Linked DNA regions of Homo sapiens. The protein of the gene in region 7 purifies or fractionates together with the protein of the main gene of each other region. This does not show direct contact. Each region holds a gene or a part of one and is shown on either strand. Other genes may lie near its edges. The genes, in order: L2HGDH, ABHD10, LSM12, IVD, ALAS1, LYPLAL1 and HMGCL.

Region 1 (3,500 bases), on a different chromosome or scaffold from region 7:
TGATTGTTTCCTTTGCTGTGCAAAAGCTTTTTAACTTGATGTGATCCCATTCTGGATCATATTGTTTAATTTCTATGTGTTTATATAATTTCCAAAATTCCTCTTGTGATTGATTTGTAGTTTTATTCCATTGTGGTCAGAGAAGATGCTTGATATTATTCCAAATTTTTTGAATGTTTTAAGACTTGTTTTGTGATCTAACATATGGTCTATCCCTGAGAATGATCCATGTGCTGAGGAGAAAAATGTGTATTCTGCAGCCATTGGATGAAATGTTCTGTAAATAACTATTAGGTCTATTTGTTCTGTAGTGCAGATTAAGTCTGACATTTCTTTGTCGAGGTTCTGCCTGGGAGATCTATCCAATACTGAAAGTGGGGTGTTTAAGTCTCCAGCTATTATTATATTGGGGTCTATCTCTTTAGCTCTAATAATATTTGCTTTGTATAGCTGGGTACTCCAGTGTTGGGTGCATATATATTTACAATCATTATGTCCTCTTGCTGAATTGACTCCTTTATCATTATATAATAATCTTCTTTGTCTCTTCTTACAGTTTTTGTCTTGCAGTCTATTTTGTCTGATATCAATATAGCTATTCTAGCTATTCCTGCTCTTTTTTCATTTCCATTGTCATGGAATATCTTTTTCCATCCCTTTATTTTTAGTCTCTTTGTATCTTTATAGGTGAAGTAAGTTTCTTTTAGGCAACAGATCATTGGGTCTTGTTTTTTCATCCATTCAGCTACTCTATGTCTTTTTGACTGCAGACTTTAGTCTATTTACATTCAGTGTTATTATTGATAAGTAAGGACTTACTCCTGCCATTTTGTTATTTGTTTTCTGGTGGCTTTACAGTCTTCAATTCCTTCTTTGCTTTCTTCCTATCTTCCTTTTAATGAAGGTGATTTTTCTCTGATGGTATGTTTTAATTTCTTTCTTTTTGTTTAATTTTTTGATATCCATTGTATGTTTTTCTATTTTACCATGAGGCTTGCAAATACTATCTTATAACCCACTATTTTAAACTGATGACAATACTGATTGCATATGCAAACAAACACACAGAAAGAAAACTAATAAAAACTCTACACTTTAACTTTGTTCCTTGGCTTTTAATTTTTTTTTTTTCTCTTTATATCTTATTGTACTGTCTGTGTCTTGAAAAGTTGTTGTAGTTACTATTTTTGATTGGTTCATCATTTAATCTTTCTATGTAAGATGAGAAGTTTATACACCACAATTATAGTGTTATACTATTCTGTGTTTTTTATGTGTGCTTGCTGTTATCAGGAAGTTTTGTACCTTTATATGATTTCTTCTTGCTCATTAACATCCTTTTCTTTCAGATTGAAGAACTCTCTTTAGTATTTCTTGTAGGACATATCTAGTGTTGATGAAATCCCTCAACTTTGTCTGGGAAAGTATTTCTCCTTCATGCTTGAAGGATATTTTCACTGGATATACTATTTTAGAGTAAAAGGGTTTTTTCCTTCAGCACTTTAAATATGTCATGCCACTCCCTCCTGGCCTGTAAGGTTTCCACTGAAAAGTCTGCTGCCAGACATATTGGAGCACCATTGTATATTATTTGTTTCTTTTTTCTTGCTGCTTTTAGAATTCTTTCTTTATCCTTGACCTTTGGGAGTTTGATTATTAAATGGCTTGAGTTAGTCTCTGGATTAAATGCTGTTGGGGTTCTATAATCTTCTTGTACTCAAATGTTGATATCTTTCTCTAGGTTTGGGAAGTTCTCTGTTATCATCCCTTTGAATAAACTATTTACCCCTATATGTTTCTGTACCTCCTCTTTTAGGCCAATAACTCTTAGATTTACCCTTTTGAGAATGTTTTCTAGATTTTGTGGGCATGCTTCATTGTTTTTTATTCTTTTTTCTTTTGTCTCATCTGACTATGTATTTTCAAATAGCCTGTCTTTCAGCTCACAAACTCTTCTGCCTGATCAGTTCTGCTATTGAGACTCTGATATATTCTTCAGCATGTCAGTTGCATTTTTCATTTCTAGAATTTCTGTTTAATTCTTTTTAATTATTTCAATCCCTTTGTTAAATTTATCTGAAAGAATTGTGAATTCTTTCTGTGTTGTCTTGAATTTCTTTGAGTTTCTTCAAAACAGCTATTTTGAATTCTCTGTCAGAAAGGTCGTATATCTCTGTTTCTCCAGGATTGGTCTCTGGTGCTTTATTTAGTTTATTTGAGGAGGTTATGTATTCCTGGATGGTGTTGATGCTAGTAGATGTTCTTTGGTGTCTGGGCATTGAAGAGTTGGGTACTTATTGTAGTCTTCACAGTCTGAGCTTGTTTGTGCCTGTCCTTCTTGGGAAGGCTTTCCAGGTATTCAAAGGGACTTGGGTAACAAGCCCAATAACATTGTGTCTTTTGTAGACTTGTAGAGGTACCACCTAAGTGGTCTTGGATAAGATCCAGAAGAATTCTCTGGATCACCAGGCAGAGACTCTTGTTCTTTTCCCTTACTTCCTCCCAAATAAATGGAGTCTCTTTCTGTCTGTGCTAAACCCCCTGGAACTGGGGGGTGTGGTGATGCAAGCACTCCTGTGGCCACCACCACTGGGACTGCACTGGGTCAGACCTGAAGCCAGCCCAGCACTGGGTCTTGCCCAGGGCCCTTCCCTTCAGGGCAGTAAGCTTCCTCAGGCCCCAGGCGTGTCCAGAGATGCTGTCTGGAAGCCACAGATTGGGGTCAAATACTTTAGTAGTTTACCTGATGTTCTGTTCTACTGCGGATAACTAGCACTCACACTACAATACAAAGTTCTTCTCACTCTTCCCTCCCCTTTCCACAGGCAGAGGGGCCACTCCCTGTGGCTACCACCACCTTTGGTCCACAGGGTTTCTGCCAGGCCACCACCAATATTCACTTAAAGCCCAAGGGCTCTTCCATCAGCTTGTGGTGAAAGCTGCCTGGCCTGGGACTTACCCTTCAGGGCAGTGGGCTCCCCTCTGGCCCAGGGTAGTGCTAGAAATGCCGTCCAAGAGTGTTGGCCTGGGCCAGACACGGTGGCTCATGCCTGTAATCCCAACACTTTGGAAGGCCAAGACGGGTGGATCACCTGAGGTCAGGAGTTCGAGACCAGCCTGGCCACCATGGCGAAACCCCATCTCTACTAAAAATACAAAAATCAGCTGGGCGTGGTGGAGTGCACCTGTAATCCCAGCTACTTGGAAGGCTGAGGCAGGAGAATCGCTTGAGCCCAGGAGGTGGAGGTTGCAGTGAGCCGAGGTCACGCCACTTCACTCCAGCCTGGGCAACAGAGCGAGACTCTGTCTCACAAAAAAAAAAAAAAAAAAAAAAAAAAAAAAAAAAAGGAGTGTAAGCCTTGACTTGGGGACCCCAAGAACCTGCTTGTTGCTCTACCTCACTGTGGCTGAGCTGGTACCTAAGGTGTAAGACAAAGTCCCCTTTACTTTTATCTCTGCTTTTCTCAAACAGAAGGAGTCTTTCACTGTAGCCACCACAG
Region 2 (3,500 bases), on a different chromosome or scaffold from region 7:
AAAGTTCCACATGGGCACAAGCTTTGTTTCAATGCGTTCCTAGTGCCTAGTTCAGTTCCTTGCGAGTGGTAGGTGCTTAGTGTATATTTAGTGAATTGATGGAAGGGAAGGAGACCAGAATAAAATTCATCATCACCAACCCATCCCTTTCTCCTTCCAACTTCCTAGTTATCTAGGCTCAGTTATCTGTCTGATCTATGAATTTTACCTCTCCTTAAGGGTATCAAATCAATAAAAAATCATGGTGGTATAAAGTATCATACCACACCCACAGGTTACCTAAACTCTAGTCATACTGAACTACTCCTAATTCCCAGTTACACCCTTTTATAACTTAGAGCCTTAGCATGCTGTTCTGCTGCCAAGAACAGCTTCCTCCCCAACCCAAATTCGTAGTCACCCTTTAAGTCATGTCACCTCCTCTGAGGAACTTCACTTGACATATATGCCCCATTTAGTACCAGTCACTTTCTTTTGTATGTACTCAACACTTTTCATATTGTATTGTAATCAAGTTTGTTTTTAAACATTCATCTCCCTCTGACTAGAATGTCAGTTCCTTAAGAGGAGGCTGTTTTATTCGTTTGTTTTTCCAGGCCACAGAATACTGCCTGCCCTATACCATCACCATTCTTTCTCATTTCTTCTTATGTTCATCCCTTTCTTGGTACTTTGGTAAGTCCAGTATCTTGGTGTAGGTGTTTATTTGTCATCTTAGACCTAGACTATCACAGTAGCCTTCTATCTTGTGTCTCTATGACTCTGTCTTTAAATAGAGTCACTATATACATGTCAGTTTTTTTCTTTAACATTTTAGCATTACCTTCAGTGCTCCCTGTGATATACAACATAAACACTTAGTGCTTTGGCCTGTTTTTTTGAACCATTATATTCTGGTCATTTCAGATTGATTTCACAATAAATTTTACAGTAAATTTTTTTTTACTACTAAATTTTACAGTAGTACTCACTTCATCAGGGAATACTACTGCTTTAGACAAATTGATGAACTTACTGTTCCTAAAATAGGTCTATGTTTTCTTATGTGTTTCACATCTCACACTGTTGATTCCTTTACCTGGAATACCTTCTTCCATCATCTTCTTTACTGATATATTTTCCCTTCTTTACTGATATCCTTTCCCAGAGCCTAGTTCAAATGAACCTTTTTGGTGGAATGGCTGGTACAGTAAGTAAGGGATTTATGAGAAATAGGGGAGAGAAGAAATTAAATTTTTCTTTAGGTTTGAAGTGAAACGATTTTGGATCCTTGGGAAATAGAACAGGGCAACTGGTGCAGTCTAAATCAGTTACTGTTTCCCCCTCAATCCAGGGTATGTAAGAGATGGGTAGAAGGGGTGGAAGAAAAAAGGGGGAAAGACACCAACTAATTTTCTCCTTTTCTCTCTTCATAGGTGGCAATTGGATATGGCTGAATGTGGCATCTTTTACAGTTAGCTGCCTTCCAAATATATGGTGAGGATGCAAAATACTTGTACAGCTCCTTCATGAAGGAAAATATAAATACTTGGTGATACTAACAGGGTACCATTAAAAAAATATAGTTAACTCTCACTGAACCCCAATCCAGAGACAAAGATAATCCAAACATATTCAGCACTTTAAAACTTTTAAACAGTAGCACATCTCCATCTTAGCAGCCTCAATAGTCTGGGATGTAGTCCCAAATAAAAATTCTATTACAAATAATTATGAGAGAATACCAGCCTTAAAACCATATGTTATATTCCTGAGATCTGAATCAGTCTTATTTTAGGCATGGTGATAGGACCTTAATAAAACATTTTCATATAGTCATATGTTTTATTTCTTGTGTAATAAACTATTTCATCATTGAAGATCTAAATTTTACAGCAAAAAATCCCAACAAAAGCAACCTGAAAAATTAGAGAATAGAAGATAAAATCTCTTATAATAAAGTGCAATCAATAGTTAACAATAATTAGACTGTGATGAACTTTGATAAGAGCAAATAAAATGGAACTTGTTCAAACTAAATATTTGTAGTTAAGCACTATTCTTTATGAAGGTATACTCACACAGGATCCAAAAATGCAGAAAAGCCACATTATGTCTTATAGGGAGACAGGAACTGGTTATAACTCTCATAGTCTCAAAGCTGAAATTTTAGAACTGGTAAAATGGTGATTTCTCGATTCAAATTTATTCAGTGGCAAAAAAGAAAAGTGATAACAATATTTTTGATATTATGATCTTCTGCTCAGGACAGTCCCCCTCCTTGGACAGCACTTCCCTCCCACCCAAATCTGAATTATTCTTCAACGTTCCTTTATCTATTTCAATCCCACTGTCTCTAACTTTATGCAATTAAGTATACTGTTCTTTTGACACAATCACATTCTGATGAGTATTTCTGCCAAATTTCTAACATGTATTTTATCTTGTGTTTCCCCACCCTGAATGAAAGGTCCTCATAGGCAAGTACAATGTTTTATAATTCTTTGTTATTATGCAGCACTCAGTATAGTGCTAGAGAATCTATTTCCAAAAAGTACTCCAATCTTCAGAATAAGTCAGAACAGATTTTAACATAGTTCTGAGTATGAAAATAAAATAATTCATTAGTTTGGTAAAAGAAATAAGATTAAATCTTATTTAATTTTATAATTGACATAATTGCTGCTAATATATTGAACAGGTAGTCTGAAAGTTTTATATACAGCTGTATTTTCTAGAATTATTGAATGAATGTTTGTGAGTCACTCTTCTAAAAATTTAGATGGATAGATTTTTAGGCTGTTAGTGCTAGAAAATAACTCAGAAGTTATCTCTAGTCCAACCTCCTTCTTTTGATGACAAACTTAGGTCCAATGTTTATTAACTTACTTGTCTTGTCATAGTTATTGCTCGAATTTATTCTAGAACTCATGTTTCTTGAATTCCAGGCTAATCTTCTTTTTACGAAATCATACCATCTCTTCTGGACAGTGGATACTAAACATATAACTGCTACAGGTAGACCTTATAATAACATAAAGTTATTTACTAAAATAACTCTCAGTGTGAAAAATTAGGAATTATAAAATCAAGCTTGAGTTAAGTACCACTTATCCCTATTTATGCTTATACATATTCAGATTACAGGAGAGGGAAGAGAAAACTCAGCAGAAATTTGCATTATGATACTTTTAAATACATGTATTACTTTTAGATAAACAGTGATCAAATAAAGTCCTTAAGTCCCCAGTGGAAAATGATAATATAAGAGACTGTATGAAAGCCAACTAGTATATCTGTTTGTTGTCACATACATTATTGCCTCTAAAGAGCTTAGTTACCAATATTTCCCTTAAGATGTCCTTTTCTGCCAGGGTTGTCAGCGTGGCACAAAGGCCTTTAAAAAAGGTCTTTTAAAGGTTGCTTTTAAAATTACCCTAAATCACAAGATGCAAGTTTACAGACCATTAAAATAATGTATAAAAATGCTGGCATTTACTTCAACTGATTAGAACAGAAGT
Region 3 (3,500 bases), on a different chromosome or scaffold from region 7:
ATTTTTTGAGACGAAGTCTTGCTCTGTCGCCCAGGCTGGAGTGCAGTGGCGCCATCTCGGCTCACTGCAAGCTCCACCTCCCGGGTTCATGCCATTCTCCTGCCTCAGCCTCCCGAGTAGCTGGGACTACAGGCGCCCGCCACCATGTCCGGCTAATTTTTTTGTATTTTTAGTAGAGACGGGGTTTCACCATGTTGGCCAGGATGGTCTCGATCTCCTGACCTTGTGATCCGCCCGCCTCGGCCTCCCAAAGTGCTGGGATTACAGGCTTGAGCCACCACACCCGGCCTACTCTAACTTTAGTCAAAGGTATCATCACATATTGGCCCATCTTGCTGACATAGTAAGTGATCTGCTTAATTAAACCTGTTGATAAAAACCGGATATTTGTTGACTCTGACCTAGCAGGAAATGGAAGAGAAGGGCTTATACAGGAAATACTTAATAATAGCTCAACTAGGGAAGGTATAAACTAGCAACTTCTTGGAAATTGGCCTGTTTTGCTTTCGAATGATAGTTCACTTCAGGCTAAGAAGTCTTATTTCTATCTCCAGCAGTAGCATGTAAGAGGAAGCTTGAGAGAGGACAGTAGGGTTGCAGTAGGGGGAATTCTTTTTTTTGAGACAGGGTCTCAGTCCATTGCCCGGTGTGATCTCGGTTCAAGCGATTCTCCTGTCTCAGCCTCCTGAGTAGCTGGGATTACAGGCGCCTGCTGCCACCATGCCCGGCTAATTTTTCTATTTTTAGTAGAGATGGGGTTTTGCCGTGTTGACCAGGCTGGCCTTGAACTCCTGACCTCAGATAATCCACCTGCGTCGGCCTCCTAAAGTGTTAGGATTATAGGCGTGAGCCACTGCACCTGGCCAAGTCCCCTGTTTTTCTATTACTTTGTGTTTAGCCCAAGGAACTCATAGTTTGGCAACATGAAGTACCCTGAATAATGTACAATGCTAAGTTATGTTTCGTGTGTGTGTGTATGTGTGTGTGTGTGTTCTGTTTTTTAGAGATATAGTCTCATTCTGTTGACCAGGCTAGAGTGCAGTGGCATGATCATAACTCACTGCAGCTTCGAACTCCTGGCTCATAGCCTCAAGTGATCCGCCCAAGCTTCCTGAGTAGCTGGGACTACAATCTCCCATCACCACACCTGGGTGGTTGTTTTGTTTCTTTTTAGTTAGTCTCGCACTGTGCCCAGGCTGGAGTGCAAATGATGCAGTCACAGCTCACCGCAGCCTCGACCTCCAGGGTTCGCTCAAGTGATCTTTCCACCTCGCCTCCCAAGTAGCTGGGACTACCGGCACAAACCACCACACCTGGCTAATTTTTCTTTCTTTTTTGAGATGGAGTCTTGCCCTGTTGCCCAGGCTGGAGTGCGGTGGTGCCGTGATCTCGGCTCACTGCAACCTCTGCCTCCTAGGTTCAAGCAATTCTCCTGCCTCAGCCTCCTAAGTAGCTGGGATTACAGGCGTGCGCCACCATGCCTGGCTAATTTTTTGTATCTTTAGTAGAGATGGGGTTTCACCATGTTGACCAGGCTGATCTCGAACTCCTGACCTCATGATCCACCCGCCTTGGCCTCCCAAAGTGCTGGGTTTACAGGCGTGAGCCACCGCGCCCAGCCTAGTTTTTTTTTGTAGAGACAGGGTCTTACTGTGTGGCCCAGGATGGTCTGTAACTCCTGGGCTCAAGCAATCCTCCTTCCTCGGCTTCCCAAAGTATTCGAATTACAGGTATGAGCCACTGGCCCAGCCCCTAGGTAACGTTTCTAAGTAAAGAAAAACATCTATGTTCTGTGGTCAGGGGCAGGGTAGTCTAGTAGAAAAGACTTAGGAATGAACCAAGTAGATCAGTCTTTAAAGTCATTAGACTTGGCAGATGTTAGTTAATGTCTCCCAAATTATTATTATTATTATTATTATTTATTATTTTTTTTTTGAGACGGAGTCTTGCTCAGTCGCCCAGGCTGGAGTGCAGTGGCGCGATCTCGGCTCACTGCAAGCTCCGCCTCCTGGGTTCACGCCATTCTCCTGCCTCAGCCTCCCGAGTAGCTGGGACTACAGGCGCCCACCACCACGCCCAGCTAATTTTTTTGTATTTTTAGTAGAGACAGGGTTTCCCCGTGTTAGCTAGGATGGTCTCAATCTCCTGACCTCATGATCCCCCCATCTCAGCCTCCCAAAGTGCTGGGATTACAGGCGTGAGCCACTGTGCCCGGCCCAGATTTTTTTATTGTAGCTAACTAATGCTCATTGAATTATGGGATGAGATAAGGCAGGGGAAGGAGGGCATTGTGACAAAGGGCCCATAGAAGATTTATGCCATTACACTAGGCTCTCACTTAACGTCTTTGGTAGGTTCTTGGAAACTTTGACTTTATGTATTATTATTATTATTATTACTTTGTTTTTTTTTTGAGACAGAGTCTCCGTCTGTCTCCCAGGCTATAATGCAGTAGTGCTGTCTCAGCTCACTGCAACCTCTGCCTCCCAGGTTCAAGCAGTTCTCTACCTCAGCCTCCGGAGTAGCTGGGATTCCAGGCATCTGCCACCACAGCTGGCTAATTTTTGTATTTTTGGTAGAGACAGGGTTTCACCATCTTGGCCAGGGTGGTCTTGAACTCCTGACCTCATGATCCGCCCACCTCCGCCTCCCAAAGTGCTGGGATTACAGGCGTGAGCCACTGTACCTGGCACATTATTATTTATTTTTTTAAGATGAAGTCTCACCCAGGCACGGTGGCTCACGCCTGTAGTCCTAGCACTTTGAGAGGCCGAGGCGGGCGGATCACGAGGTCAGGAGATCAAGACCATCCTGGCTAACATGGTGAAACCCCGTCTCTACTAAAAACGCAAAAATTAGCTGGGCGTGGTGGCATGTGCCTGTAGTCCCAGCTACTTGGGAGGCTGAGGCAGGAGAATGGTGTGAACCCAGGAGGCGGAGCTTGCAGTGAGCTGAGATCGCGCCACTGCACTCCAGCCTGGGAGACAGAGCGAGACTCCGTCTCAAAAAAAAAAGAAAAAAAAAGTCTTACTCTGTTGCCCAGGCTGGAGTGCCATGGCTCTATCTCAGCTCACTGCAACCTCCGCCTCCTGTGCTAAAGCAGTTCTCCTGTCTCAGCCTCCCGAGTAGCTGGGAGTACAGGTGCGCCCCACCACGTCCGTCTTATTTTTTTATGTTTTTGAGACAGAGTTTCACTCTTGCTGCCCAAGCTGGAGTGCAATGGCACGATTACAGCTTACCACAACCTCTGCCTCCCGGGTTCAAGTGATTCTCCTGCCTCAGCCTCCCAAGTAGCTGGGATTACAGGCATGTGCCACCCCACCTGGCTAATTTTGTATTATTAGTAGAGAGGGTTTCTCCATGTTGGTCAGACTGTTCTTGAACTCCCGACCTCAGGTGATTTGCCTCGGCCTCCCAAAGTGCTGGGATTACAGGTGTGAGCCACTGTACCAGGCTGTATTTTTTTTTTTTCTTTTTTTGGAGAGGAGTTTTCCTTTGTC
Region 4 (4,171 bases), on a different chromosome or scaffold from region 7:
CCTGCTAGCTCCCTGCCTTCTCCCTCCGGACAGCCTATTAAACACATCATCTGGCCACCTCACCTGGAAGCCCAGATAGACATCTCTCTCCCCTGCCCAGCCCCTACCCTACTCCCCCCGCTATCTGCTCCCAAATGAGCTCCAAGGTTTAAGCAGAAGAGGACACAGGCAGTCCCTGCAGGGACACACCTGCCCAGAGTGTTCCTGCCGAGAGGCCACTGGTAGGACAAAGCTTATAGGGATTAGGGGAGGCAGTAAGACTGAGGTACTATGAAGACAACCACTTGATCCAGAGTTTTCTAAACTTCCCAAATCACCTGGGTGAGCCTATTAAGTATGCAGAGTTCAAGAGTTGGACTGATCCTGATCCAAGTGAGCCACAATGACCTAATTAATCCCTCTGCCTTCTCTACATCACTGTCTAATAAAATAGAAGAGTGTCCTGTTCTCTGGGCTGACAATCAATGGGTGCTTTCACAGGTCCAAAAGATGCAGTTCTGGGTTTCTTTAAGCACAATCTTTCCCTTCCCTTCCTGCTTCTTTTGGGAACTGTCTTAAAGGGCACATAAGAAAAGTTCTTTTTAGGGAAAGACACTATACTCACCAGGGGCTGTGATGCCCAATACGCCCAGGTTCCCCAGCTGCTTCCAAAATTCCTGCCAACAGAATGGAGCAGAGTGGAATAAGTGTTGAGGGGAAGGCAGCCAGTCACATGTGGCTGGAACAATGAGACCCAAACACTTCAGAGAGAGGGGCTGCATTCTTAGAGAGGCTTCATTTACCAGAAAACTGTGTGAGCTCTTCCAGGCAGCAGTGCAGCTCAGCCCCACTCCCTGACTGCCCCCGACTGCCCGGACCTCCCAACTCACTCGCAGGTTCTTGAACTCATTGCTGCGATCGATCTCCTGGGCCTTGGGGGCCAGGTGCTCCTGAAGGAACTTAGCCATGGTCTGACGAAGCTAATAGGAGAGAGGTAAACAGATGCCACTGCAGACAGCATCTCCACTACCCAGACACATTCAAGAGAAAAGGCCACAAGTAACTTCCCCAAACAGCATCAGACTGAAACTGAGAGGCCTCAGTAGTTTATGCCTCCTCAGAGATGATCTTCACCCCTCTTTCTTAAGGTCTTCAGCCTAGACAGCTTGATGGTAATTTTTAAAACGTCACACTTTACATAAAAATCATTCCATTGGTTTCCACTGTACTTAGAATAAAACACAAGCTTCTCACCCAGGCCTACTAGGCCCTGCAGGAGCTGACCCCAGCTGACTCTCCTAGCTTCCCCAGCACCTTCCCACCTCCCACCCTCTGTGCTCCAGCTGCATTCCAGGCAGCTGCCAGATCTCAATAGTTGTCAGGCTCTTTTAAGCCCCCGAACCTTTGGCTAAAAGGGTCTGATTACCCAAAGAGATTAGAAACGCCTCTTGGCGGCTGGGCATGGTGGCTCATGCCTGTAATCCCAGCACTTTGGGAGGCCGAGGCAGGAGGATCACCTGAGGTTGGGAGTTTGAGACCAGCCTGACCAACATGGAGAAACTCCGTCTCTACTAAAAACACAAAATTAGCCGGGCGTGGTGGTGCATGCCTGTAATCCCAGCTACCTGGGAGGCTGAGGCAGGAGAATCACTTGAACCCGGGAGGCGGACGTTGTGGTGAGCGGAGATCGCGCCATTACACTCCAGCCTGGGCAACAAGAGTGAAACTCCGTCTCAAAAAAAAAAAAAAAAGAAAAAAGAAAAGAAACTCCTCTTGCCAGGAAAGCTTGAGAATAGGGATTGAACCCTTTCCACTTGAGGTGGTTCACGGAAGCTCTGAGCGCTCGCTGGCTATAAACATAAACTACGGAGTTGCTGGGAGGCTCATACCTCCGCCAACTCCATCCAGCCTCCAAGTGAAACCTCAGGAAGGACTCTGGTTCTGCTCCATTTGTAAATACTACTTCGTCTTCTTTTCTATTTTTTATGAGATGGGGGTCTGGCTATGTTGCTTAGGCTGATCTCAAACCCCTGAGCTCAAACAATCCTCCCACCTCGGCCTCCCAAAGTGCTAGGATTACAGGTGTGAGCCACGGCGCCTGGCCTCCAACTACTTCTTTCAAGTACTTGTTCAACTTTTGTGTTTTGACCCAATGGGCTGAAGAGCGACAGGAGAGCTCACTGTGGCTTTTTAAAACCCCCAAACTGTTTATACAAAAAAGACTCCCTGGTGATTACGATGACCACCCAGGTGTGAGAAGCATACCTCAGCCTGTTCAGGTGTAAGTGAACTACATACAGATTGAGGGCCCTTGTGCCACAAGCGGTAGGTAGCCTGGCCAATCCTCCACCAAAACACCATCAGTCTCTCAGGAGCTCTCCCAGCCTCGACTCCTCCTCTCTACTTCCAGCAGTACTGTCCCACGGTCTCAAATCTTCACTCCACAGACGTGAGGCCGAGGTCAGAGGACTGGACCCGAGGTCGGAGGCCCCGCGTCCCGCCCCCGCGCTGGCGCTCCCAACGGCCCACGGGCAAAAGCCAAGGCTGGGTGGGCGCTGGGCCGATGGGGACCAGGCAGGAAGGAGGCCTTGGGGACCAGGCAGGAAGGAGGCCTTGGGGCCAGGAAGGGGGTCAGTCTCCTCACCTGCCTCTGCTCCTCGCTTAGCCCATTGATTGCATCGTCCACGGGCAAAAGCGAGTGGGCCCGCTGGGAAACGAAGCCGGCAAGCGGCGGCCGCAGCCTCCAGCTCGCCACACGCCACCCCAGCAGCCGAGTCGCAGTCGCCATCTCTGCCATGCACGAAGAGCCAGCGCTGAAACTGAGCCAGCTCTTAGCTCCACCAATCCAGGCTTCGCCGCCCACCAAACCGGCTAGGGGGTGGGCTGCAGCAGCCAATCACCCTAGGCGGCCCGCCGAAGGCGTTGCTGCCCTTGGACCGCACCCGAGCCAATCAACCGTGATCGCCTGCCAGCTTCCAGCCAGTGCAACGGCCGCAGGCCGAGTGGCCCTGCCCCGAACGCTGCAAATGCTGGCGTGCTCCCTAGGATGAGTGTTTTTAGCGGGGTAGAAGAGCAAGTGTTTTTTTCTTTTTATCTCCCTGCGTTGAAATAGCAGCCCCTAACTGCGGAAATCTCTCTGTGGGAAAGCAGAGTGTGGAAACAGCAATCAGAAAACTGCCCACGTACCCAGTAAATTGGTCAAGCATCTCTGGAATAATTAAGATCGGAAAAGTAGTGCTTGCTCTAACGTGCACACTGATCATAACAGAGTACATCTTGCTTTATTATATAACAAGGTTTGTAGATTTAGATTCATGTTTTATGGGAAAGGGGTTATTAAGGAGTAGCTGCCTTCTAGATTGGAGATGCGCCTCGATTTACAGTGGGGTTACTTCTCGATAAACCCATCATAAATGGAAAATATTGTAAGTCAAAAATGCACTTTGAAAATACACTTAGGCCGGGCATGATGGCTCACACCTGTAATCCCAGCACTTTGGGAGGCCGAGGCGGGTGAGTCACCTGAGGCGGAGAGTTTTAGACCAGCCTGGCCAACATGGAGAAATCCTGTCTCTACTACAAATACAAAAATTAGCTGGGCGTGGTGGTGCATGCCTGTAATCCCAGCTACTCAGGAGGTTGAGGCAGGAGAATCGCTTGAACCCGGGAGGTGGAGGTTGCGGTGAGCTGAGATCACGCCATTGCACTCCAGCCTGGGCAACAAGAGTGACACTCCGTCTCAAAACAGAAAACAAAAAAACACCTAACCTACCAAACATCATAGCTTAGACTAGTGGACCTTAAACGTACTTGGAACACTTATAATAGCTTATAACGGCACAATCATGTAACACAAAGCATATTTTATAAGACAGTGTTAGATATCATTTATTGAATATTGTACAGTTTCTATTCAATGTCTATCACTTTCACACCATCATAAAGTTGAAAAATCTTAAGTTGAACTATTGTAAGTTGGGGACCATTTGTATTTAATATGTGTTAAATATTAAATAGTACATATTTACGTATTATACTATATATTAAATAAGATGTATTAAATAGGCTGGGCATGGTTGCTCATGCCTGTAATCCTAGGACTTTGGGAGCTTAGGTGGGAAGATCGCTCGAGGCCAGGAGTCCAAGACCATCCTGTGCAACATAGGGAGACCCTGTCTCCACAAAAAATTTG
Region 5 (3,334 bases), on a different chromosome or scaffold from region 7:
AAAGTCAGGGGGAGGCAGCTGTAGCAGGACTGCTGGGCAGCACTGACTGTCCATTGAAGATGTGAAGTGAGAAGTTTAAAGTGAAACCGGCCGCCAAGGTGGTGTCACTCTTTCAAAACTGTTCAGTTGCCGGGTGCGGCTGGGTCAGCCACTGGATACAGTAGGCATTAAGGAGGTAGCAGGGCTCAAGCAGTGGGAGGTTCTGCTGCTCCTCCTCTGAAGCCATTACCAGAGCTCCAGTACTTCATTCAGTTTATTCATTCCTAGAATACAGACTGAACTTAAAGGGATGATGACAATTATTATTTTTTATTTCAGAGGCAGTCTTGCTCTGTCACCCAGGCCGGAGTGCAGTGGAGCAATCATGGCTCACTGCAGCTTCAAACTCCTGGCCTAAAGTGATCCTCTTGCTTTGGCCTCCCAAGTGTTGTGATTACAGGTGTTAGCCACTGTGTCTAGCCAATGAAGAATGTTATCCAGTAGCCAATAGCAGAAAGAACCACCATTTAAGCAAGAATTTATTTCCAGGACTATGTTTTTACTATAGATTAAAATTTAATATAACTTAATTCACATATAAAGACAACTCTGAAGACCATCTGGATATGATAATGGCCTGGGGTTAAGTGAAATAATTGAGGTCATGCTCAGGCCTGAGCAGATACCAACTTGCTCAAGCCTGAGAAATAGGACTTCTCTCTTTCACTCATCACTTCAAAATGCAGTGGCCTCCTGCAGAAGTTGCACTCAGCTGAGGAATGAGGCTTCAGTTCCAGCCCCACTTGCTTCCATGTGACTAGCAGATTCTCTGAGGAGAAACAGTTTTTAAATATTAAAGGGAGTAATATACACAAGAGAAATGAAAACATATGTCCACACAAAAACTTGTACACAAATGTTCATAGCAGCATTATTCATAATAGTTAACAAGAGAAACAACCAAATGTCCACCAATAGACGGATAAACAAAATGTGGTAAATCTGTACAATGGAAGGTTATTTGGTAACAGAAAGAAATGAAGTGCTGATGAATGCTACAGCATGGATGAGCCTTGCAGACATGATGCTGGAAGAAGGCAGACACAAAGGAGCACAGGCGGTATGATTCCACTTAGACACAAGGTCCAGAAAAGGCAAATCCATAGAGACAGAAAGAGCCGTGGTTGACAGGGGCTGGGGATGGGGAAAAGAGGAGTGACTCCTAATGGGTAGGGGCTTCTGAGGTGATGAAAATGTTCTAGAATCAGATAGAAGTGATGGTTGCATAACACTGGGAGTGTACTTAAAAATCATAGACTTGGATACTTTAAAAGGGTGAATTTTATGGTAAGTGAGCTATATCTCTACTGAGATAAGGCTTTTATAAAAATTTTAAGGCTTTTATAAAAATAAATAAAGAGAAAAATAAAACCCAGAGTTGGGCTTGATTTCACAGGCCTGTAGGGAAGAAGCTGCTCCAACACTGCCACGTGACAGTTTAAACCCAGCATTTCCAACAGAACAGAGAGCCTGTGAGGAAGCTGAGCCACGCTGGGCGGGCTTGGGAAGGCAATGTACCTTCGAGGCAGAGGTGACCTGTGGCTAATAGCCCCCTTCCATCTCTGCCTTTAGGTTGGACATGGGTGGAGCAGTATAGAACCACGGGGCAGTTGAAAATATTGAGCAATTCCTCTTATCAGAGGCGATTAGGTGTGGGGTTATTCAAGGATTATACAACATCATGGAGTAGAGGGCAGTGGTGAAGACAAATGTGAGGTGGACTCCGGAGGGACAGCGGGGACTCAAGCCTTCAGAGGCCTCTTCTCCCTGCAAGTCATTACTGTGCATCCTTCAGCCACGTAGACAAGGGGGCACTGGAAACACTGAGCGGATTCCCAGGCTCCCTCAGAGCTCCCAAAATGACTCTCCACCCTCTTGATGTGAATCAGACAATAAATACCTTTTAGGGTTTTGAACCATTTGAGGGCATGCTTAGTTACTTGGAAAAAGAAGAAACAGGCCGGGCACCAGGGCTCACACCTGTAATCCCAGCACTTTGGAAGGCTGAGGTGGGTGGATCACCTGAGGTCGGGAGTTCGAGACCAGCCTGACCAACATGGAGAAACCCCATCTCTACTAAAAATACAAAATCAGCCAGGCGTGGTGGCGCATGGCTGTAATCCCAGCTACTCAGGAAGCTGAGGCAGGAGAATCGCTTGAACCTGGGAGGCAGGGGTTGCGGTGAGCCGAGATTGTGCCATTGTACTCCAGCCTGGGCAACAAGAGCGAAACTCTTGTCTCAAAAAAAAAACTAAAAAAAGAAGAAGAAACAAATCTGAATGCCTCTGAAGGGCTTCAATTATAAACACTGCAAAGACAGCTTTATGCAACTCCTCAGTGAGGCACCAGCAGCTCCCCAGGTACTCACCAAGGAAGTAGTTCATCATCTGGGGTGTGTGGTGAGGGGTGGGGGCAATCCGTAGGAGCTCTTCTCCCCGGGGCACCGTAGGGTAATTGATTGCTTGCACGTAGATGTTATGTCTGCTCATTAGTTCATCACAGACTTCTGTGTTTTTAGCAGCATCTGCAACCTAAGTTCAATGAGAGCAGAAGGTAAGGTCACAACAGGAAGGACTACCTCTTAGCAGAGATCCTAACGAACGCAGTCCCCACAACGCTCAGGCTCAAGACCAGACTGTAGCAACACATGCAAGCTTGGGGCAGAGGGAAAGCGCTGCCCAAACACCTGTCATTTAAAAGAAGCCAGTGTTGTTTCGTGAACACCAGGGAACCAAAACCTTATTAAAAAGAAATACATTTTTAATCAGAAAACACTGGTTCTGTTCGTACCAGCAGACTCTCATACCCACGATGTATAATCTAGATTCAGTTATACTAGCTGTATTCATTACACTAATTCAACTGTGACATCAACAGTGCTACCATTTGTAGTGGGAAGGGCAAAACCTATTTTGAAATTTACTAAGTAGAAAGCCATACTTCAAAGCTGGCCAAGCTCAGGCTTCTGGAGCTTTCTAGATACAAGCTCTGTGTTTACCCTGTTAAGGTCAGTGCTCCGGAGAGGGAACTTCTGCCCCAGCCTGCTGGGTTCAAAGGCTTTCTTCTCTTGGTGAAGTCAGCCAATGGCGGAAACATGACAGAGGGTGGCTGGCTACAACCCCTGCCCTGGCAGTCACCCCGCTCAAGCCCAACTTCAGGAAGGTATGAAGCAGAACATCCGTACATCATGTGTAGAGGCACACCCCACGGCAAGTCCAATCAGAGACAGGCCATTACCCGCACAGGGATGATGTGGCTGGGGCAGTGGACAACAGGGAGGCCGGCATCCATTAGC
Region 6 (3,500 bases), about 200 Mb from region 7:
TTTTATATGTGTGTTTAACTTCATTTAAGATTTGTTTCTGCTTTGAGAAGCATCTGTTCATGTACTTTGCCCACCTTTTAATGGGGTTTTCTTTTTCTTGTAAATTTGTTTAAGTTCCTTGTAGATTCTGGATATTAGACCTTGGTCAGATGGATAGATCGCAAAAATTTTCTCCCATTCTGTAGGCTGTCTGTTCACTCTGATGACAGCTTCTTTTGCTGTGCAGAAGTGCTTTAGTTTATTAGATACCATCTGTCAACTTCTGCTTTTGTTGCTATTGCTTTTGAAATTTTCATCATAAAATCTTTGCCCATGTCTATGTTGTGAATGGTATTGCCTAGATTTACTTCTAGGGTTTTTATAATTTTTGGTTTTACATTTCAGTCTTTAATCCATCTTGAGTTAGTTTTTGTATAAGGTGTAAGTAAGGGGTCCAGTTTCAATTTTCTGCATATGGCTAGCCAGTTTACTCAGCACCATTTATTAAATAGGGAATCCTTTCCCCACTGTTTGTTTTTGTCAGATTTGTTGAAGATCAGATGGTTGTAGATGTGAGGTCTTATTTCTGAGATCTCTATTCTGTTCCATTGGTCTATGTGTCTGTTTTTGTACCAGTGCCATGCTGTTTGGTTACTGTAGCCTTGTAGTATAGTTTGAAGTTGGGTAGCATGATGCCTCCACCTTTGTCCTTTTTGCTTAGGACTATCTTGGCTATATGGGCTCTTTTTTGGTTCCAATTTTAAAGTAGTTTTTTCTAATTCTGTGAAGAATGTCAATGGTAGTTTAATGGGCATAGCATTGAATCTATAAATTACTTCGGGTAGTATGGCCATTTTCATGATATTGATTCTTCCTATCCATGAGCATAGAATGTTTCTCCATTTGTTTATGTCCTCTCTTATTTCCTTGAGCAGTGGTTTGTAGTTCTCCTTGAGGAAGTCCTTTGTATTCCTAAGTATTTTATTCTCTTTGTAGCAATTGTGCATGGGAGTTCATTCATGATTTAGCTCTCTGCTTGCCTACTGTTGGTGTATAGGAATGCTTGTGATTTCTACATATTGATTTTGTATCCTGAGACTTTCCTTAAGTTGCTTATCCACTTAAGAAGCTTTGGGGCTGAAACGATAGAGTTTTCTAGATATTGGATCATGTCATTTGCAAATAGACACAGTTTGACTTCTTCTCTTCCTATTTGAACACACTTTTTATTTCTTTTTCTTGCCTGATTGCCCCAGCCAGAACTCCCAATACTATGTTGAATAGAAGTGGTGAGAGAGAGCATCTTTGTCTTGAGCTGGATTTCAAGGGGAATGGTTACAGCTTTTGTCCATTCAGTATGATACTGGCTGTGGGTTTGTCATAAATGACTCTTCAGACATTTCTCAAAAGAATACACTTATGCAGCCAAAAAACATGAAAAAAAGCTCAACATCACTTATCATTAGAGAGCTGCAAATCAAAATCACAATGAGATGCCATTTCATACCAGTCTGAGTGGCAATTATTAAAAATTCAAGAATTTTTGAATTTTGAATTTTTAATATGCTGGCAAGGCTGTGGAGAAACAGGAACACTTTTACACTGTTGATGAAAATGTTAATTAGTTCAAGGATTGTGGAAGACAGTGTGGCAATTCCTCAAAGACCTAGAACCGGAAATACCATCTGACCCAGCAATTTCATTACTGGGTATACACCCAAAGGAATATAAATCATTCTATTATAAAGATACATGCACACATATGTCCACTGCAGCAGTATTCACAATAGCAGACATGAATCAATCCAAACGCCCATCAATGACAGACTGGGTAAAGAAAATGTGGTACATGTACACCATAGAATACTATGCAGCCATAAAAAGGAACAAGATCATGTCTTTTGCAGGGACAAGGATGGAGCTGGAAGCCATTATCCTCAGCAAACTAACACAGGAACAGAAAACCAAACACTGCATGTTGGAAGCTGAACCATGAGAACACATGGACACAGAGAGGCAAATAACACACACTGGGGCCTGTCAGGGAGGCGGTGAGAGGGAGAGCATCAGGATAAACAGCTAATGAATACAGGTCTTAATACCTAGGTGATAGGTTAATAGGTATAGCAAAACACCATGACACATGTTTACCTATGTAACAAACCTGCATGTCCTGCACATGTATCCTGGAACTTAAAATAAAATTAAAATTTTTAAAAGATTTGATTTTGTTGTACTAGGATTCTTTAAAATGTAATATACTGCAGAAAATCCATAATATCTCTAGTACTCAAAGATGAACTAGATAAAGTAATGGATCTGGGAAAGGAAGAGAGAGGATGGGGCAAGAGACAAATGGACAGCAGTTACCATTCAGTGTGATAAACTCTTCAATACACACTCATTAAGAGTACTACTCAGAGTATTTTCTCCTTTTATCTATTTTTTTGCTTATGAAGAATGTACTTTTATTTTTTAAAGCAATTTCTCATCCTGATCTTTTCTTTTCCTATTGCCACCACACCACTTCAGACTTTCATTATATTATACTGGTTTCTCCATGTCAGACTTCTCATCCTTTTACTTACCCCTTCTGCCAAATTAGTTTTTCAAAGTACAATTCTTATGACTTGAAGACATTATTTAATGATCCTTTACCAATTATTACATGTTATTATACCTACAAAATAAAGGATTAAAAACTGAACAGAGTATTTACTGAGAGTCTGGAAGAAACCAAATAGTTTGTTCATCTCTCAGTAAACAGATATTATATTATTATTTCCACTTTACAGATTAGGTAGCAAAAATTAAGTGTAGGTAATAAGTGGTGAGCCAACTAGGAAGTGGTGGACTGTAGATTTGAACTCATTTTTGTCACCATTATGCCATCACGTTCTAGTCTCTTACTGTGGCTATCTGAGTCAACAGGTACTTTTTAGTTAGACACAAACTTTGTTACAGCCAACTACTGTCCAGACAGACAAAAACAAAAAGCATTACTCTGTCCACTTCTACTTTACTGTACAAATCATTCCCTCTACCTAGACTTCTACACTGTAATAGTTAAAATTTTAATAATTTGTGCATCTTAAATGCCACTGCCATCTTTCTATTAAATCTTTCTCTTACAGCCCCAAATGCATGTGACTACTTCTTCCTCTCAATTCCTACAGTACTGACAATTTATTGATTGGGTAATGTTATTTGTTATAGATTTCCTGAGTATTTGCTCTGTGCCAGGCATTGTGATAGGTTCTGGGAAATAAAAAGAAATATATACTATCATTGGCTTTGAAAAGCTATTAGTTATACCACATTAGAGCACTCATCACAGCCTGGCTGGCATTATAGTTACCACTTTAAGAATCTCATTGGCCCTTTCAGGTTGTAAGAAATATGTAAGGCAGATAGATCTTGCTTTACTTATCTGCACATCCCCGTGAACATCTATAATAATGCGTAGCACATAGTGGGGACTTAAAAAATACTTGCTAAAGATTGAATGATGACTGAATGAT
Region 7 (3,500 bases):
TGATGCTCCCACTTATTCTCCAACCACTGCTGAGCAAGAAAAAGGTAAGAGAGATGCTTAGAAAGACACAGATCTGGGAGTTGGGCCAATGTTACTGGAGCACCTGCTTCCCCATTCATCCACCTGCCCGTCAGTGACTGAGTGCCCACTGTGGCTAGGCCCCAAGCTGGGAGAGTGGAGCACCCCAGGGACTGGGAGAGATGTGGGCTTTGCCCTCATGGAGTGCACGGTCTAGTGGGGTGGGGCAGGGAGGGAATTTAACAAGCAGCTAAGTGCTACATTTAGAGGATGTCCCGACACCATGGGGTCCCAGAGAAGGGCACTAACTCCAGCTGAAGGACTGGAGCAGCTTCTCAGAGGAACTGACTCCCACAAGAAGACCTGAAGGATGAGCAGGAGTTATCCCCGAGAAGCATGATGTGGAGGAAGTGTTCTTTATTTTTTGGAGACAGAGTCTTACTCTTTCACCCATGCTGGTGTGCAGTGGCATGATTTTGGCTCACTTCAGCTTGGACCTCCCAGGCTCAGGTGATCTTCCCACCTTAGCCTCCTGAGTAGCTGGGACTACAGGCACATGCAACCACACCTGGCTTTTTTTTTGTAGAGCTGGGGTTTCACCATGTTGCCCAGGCCCAAGCCAGTCACAAACTCCTGGGCTGAAGCAACCTGCCCACCTTGGCCTCCCAAGGAAGGTTGTTCTGAGTCTAGAGAGAGCACGTGCAAAGGCCCAGAGGCAAGAGTGGAGGCATGTGACAAACAGAAAGAAGTTCCAGTTGGGCTGGAGTGTACCATGAAGAGGAAGCAGGGGCCAGAAGGGAACTTGAACGGTACGGCTACAGAAAAGAGCCGGGACCAAATCATGCAGGGTTTGTAAACCTCATTAAAAAGTCTGCACTTGATTAGTCACTGAAAGCTTTTTAACCAGGAGGGATGTGATCAGATGTGCACTTTTGTGGGGTTTTTTTGGTTTTTGTTTTTGAGACAGAGTCTCACTCTGTCACCTAGGCTGGAGTGCAGTGGCGTGATCTTGGCTCACTGCAACCTCTGCCTCCTGGGTTCAAGTGATTCTCCCGCCTCAGCCTCCTGAGTAGCTGGGATTACAGGTGCATGCCACTACGCCCGGCTAATTTTTGTATTTTTAGTAGAGATGGGGTTTCCCCATGTTGGCCAGGCTGGTTTCAAACTCCTTACCTCAGGTGATCTGCCCGCCTCGGCCTCCCAAAGTGCTGGGATTACAGGCATGAGCCACCATGTTCAGCCCAGATGTGCACTTTTCAACGATCATTCTGGCTGCAATGTTTTTTTTTTTTTTTTTTTTTTTTTGAGATGGAGTTTTGCTCTGTCACCCAGGCCGGAGTACAGTGGTGTGATCTCGGCTCACCACAACCTCCGCCTCCCAGATTCAAGTGATTCTCCTGCCTCAGCCTCCCAAGTAGATGGAATTACAGCTAATTTTTGTATTTTTAGTAAAGACGGGGTTTCTATCCACTACCACGCCCAGCTAATTTTTGTATTTTTAGTAGAGATGGGGTTTCACCATGTCGGCCAGGCTGGTCTTGAACTCTTGACCTCAGGTGATCCACCTGCCTTGTCCTCCCAAAGTGCTGGGATTACAGGTGTGAGCCACCATGCCCGGCCTCTGGCTGCAATTTGCACAGCAGTGTGACCTTACAGTAGAGTATTCGCCCTTCCTGGGCCTCGGTTTTGTAATTTATAAAGTGAGGATAACCTACTCCCTGCTGGGCTATTGTGAGGTTTCAATTATTATAGATAATACACACACAATGCCTGGAACCACTGATATTAGAGATGTGATGTTGGAAACATAGAAGCCTAGGTAATTCTCCAGGGATGTGTGAAGAGCTAGTGATAAAGCCAGGACTCAACTGACCTCCACAAACCCGTTAGTGTCCTGTCCTGCTAGATTCCTTTAGCATGATAGCAGTGGTGCTATCATGGCTCACTGCAGCCTCAAACTCCTGGTCTCAAGCCATCCTCTGCCTCAGTCTCCCAAGTTGCTAGGACTACAGGCGCATGCTATCATGGCTAGCTGGTAAACTGACCCAAAATTCAGGTTTGAGAGAAAGTACTTCCTAGGATTTCTTCTGACCACACTTATTTGGGAAAAGATGTCTAGGTGTGGAGCTCAGGCTGCCCCCACCCAGGATAAGAAGTTTGTGGCAGGAGGACCACTTGAGTCAGAGTCTAGCCCCATTCCAGAACGGTACAGAGGAAAGGATACCAATGTGCTCTGACTCACCCCCGCACAGAAATATTGGCTGACTGCGCTGCCTTCAGGATTGCGTCAAACCTCTGAAAACTCTCCTCTATGGAACAATTGATGTTCTTCTTGGTGAAGAGCTCTGAGGCAGCTCCAAAGATGACTACTTCCTTGGCTCCAGCAGCAACCTGCCAACATCCAGGTGAACTCCTTTCAGCACTTTTCTCTTTTTTTGTTTGAGATGGAGTCTTGCTTTGTTGCCCAGGCTGGAGTGCAGTGGCATGATCTCGGCTCACTGCAACCTCCACCTCCTGGGTTCAAGCGATTCTCCTGCCTCAGCCTCCTGAGTAGCTGGGATTACAGGAGCCCACCACCACGCCCGGCTAATTTTTGTATTTTTAGTAGAGACAGCGTTTCACCATGTTGGTCAGGCTGGTTTCGAACTCCTGACCTTGTGATCCACCCACCTCAGCCTCCCAAAGTGCTGAGATTACAGGTGTCAGCCATCATGCCCGGCCAGCACTTTTCTCTTTAAAGAACACTGACACAGAGTAGCAAAAAATTTCTCTTAAGGTAAATTTTATGTTATGTGAATGTTATGGGTTGAATTGTGTCCTCCTAAAAATATATGTTGAAGGATTAAAACCCAGCACCTCAGAATGTGACCTTATTTGGAAACAGCGTCATTGCAGATATCATTAGTTAAGATGAAGCCATACTGGAATAGGGTGGGCCCCTAATCCCATACGACTGGTGACCTTAAAAAAAGATGGCCAGCCGGGCGCAGTGGCTCACGCTTGTAATCACAGCACTTTGGGAGGCCGAGGCGGGCAGATCATGAGGTCAGGAGATCGAGACCATCCTGGCTAACACAGTGAAACCCCATCTCTACTAAAAATACAAAAAATTAGCCGGTCGTGGTGGCACACGCCTGTAGTCCCAGCTACTCGGGAGGCTGAGGTGGGAGAATCACTTGAACCTGGGAGGTGGAGCTTGCAGTGAGCCGAGATCATGCCACTGTACTCCAGCCTGGGCGACAGAGCAAGACTCTGTCTAAAAAAAACAAAAACAAAAGATGGCCAAGTGAAGACACAGAGACACAGAAAAGGTGGCCCTGGGAAAACGGAGGCAAAGACTGGAGAGATGCATCTACAAGCCAGGCAATGCCAAGGACTGCTGGCCACCACCAGACCCCAGCAGAGAGGCATAGGACAGATTCTCCCAGAGGCCTCAGAAGGAACCAATCCTGCTGACACCTTGATTTGGGACTTCTGGCCTC

What was found.
Region 1: the proteins of HMGCL (region 7) and L2HGDH purify together in Homo sapiens (affinity purification with mass spectrometry; one large-scale study listed by BioGRID and IntAct). This does not show direct contact.
Region 2: the proteins of HMGCL (region 7) and ABHD10 purify together in Homo sapiens (co-immunoprecipitation; one large-scale study listed by IntAct). This does not show direct contact.
Region 3: the proteins of HMGCL (region 7) and LSM12 fractionate together in Homo sapiens (co-fractionation; one large-scale study listed by BioGRID). This does not show direct contact.
Region 4: the proteins of HMGCL (region 7) and IVD purify together in Homo sapiens (affinity purification with mass spectrometry; one large-scale study listed by BioGRID and IntAct). This does not show direct contact.
Region 5: the proteins of HMGCL (region 7) and ALAS1 purify together in Homo sapiens (affinity purification with mass spectrometry; 3 studies listed by BioGRID and IntAct, with this or other methods). This does not show direct contact.
Region 6: the proteins of HMGCL (region 7) and LYPLAL1 fractionate together in Homo sapiens (co-fractionation; one large-scale study listed by BioGRID). This does not show direct contact.

What each region holds. Positions count from the first base shown.
Region 1 is NC_000014.9:50,249,730-50,253,229, reverse strand, and holds part of L2HGDH (L-2-hydroxyglutarate dehydrogenase, mitochondrial isoform 1 precursor), read left to right. Parts: intron 1-3,500.
Region 2 is NC_000003.12:111,982,026-111,985,525, reverse strand, and holds part of ABHD10 (palmitoyl-protein thioesterase ABHD10, mitochondrial isoform 1 precursor), read right to left. Parts: intron 1-3,500. UniProt on the Homo sapiens protein: Acts as an acyl-protein thioesterase that hydrolyzes fatty acids from acylated residues in proteins.
Region 3 is NC_000017.11:44,056,672-44,060,171, reverse strand, and holds part of LSM12 (protein LSM12), read left to right. Parts: intron 1-3,500. UniProt on the Homo sapiens protein: Nicotinic acid adenine dinucleotide phosphate (NAADP) binding protein. Confers NAADP sensitivity to the two pore channel complex (TPCs) by acting as TPC accessory protein necessary for NAADP-evoked Ca(2+) release.
Region 4 is NC_000015.10:40,404,424-40,408,594, reverse strand, and holds the start of IVD (isovaleryl-CoA dehydrogenase, mitochondrial isoform 1 precursor), read right to left. Parts: upstream 2,801-4,171; 5' UTR 2,777-2,800; coding exon of another isoform or gene 2,768-2,776; coding exon 2,624-2,767; exon of another isoform or gene 2,341-2,623; coding exon of another isoform or gene 2,245-2,340; intron 960-2,244; coding exon 870-959; coding exon of another isoform or gene 783-869; intron 657-782; coding exon 605-656; intron 1-604.
Region 5 is NC_000003.12:52,211,494-52,214,827, reverse strand, and holds the end of ALAS1 (5-aminolevulinate synthase, non-specific, mitochondrial isoform 1 precursor), read right to left. Parts: coding exon 3,277-3,334; intron 2,571-3,276; coding exon 2,408-2,570; intron 820-2,407; coding exon of another isoform or gene 809-819; coding exon 648-808; 3' UTR 501-647; downstream 1-500.
Region 6 is NC_000001.11:219,194,378-219,197,877, reverse strand, and holds part of LYPLAL1 (lysophospholipase-like protein 1), read right to left. Parts: intron 1-3,500.
Region 7 is NC_000001.11:23,811,930-23,815,429, forward strand, and holds part of HMGCL (hydroxymethylglutaryl-CoA lyase, mitochondrial isoform 1 precursor), read right to left. Parts: intron 2,410-3,500; coding exon 2,261-2,409; intron 1-2,260. UniProt on the Homo sapiens protein: Mitochondrial 3-hydroxy-3-methylglutaryl-CoA lyase that catalyzes a cation-dependent cleavage of (S)-3-hydroxy-3-methylglutaryl-CoA into acetyl-CoA and acetoacetate, a key step in ketogenesis. Terminal step in leucine catabolism.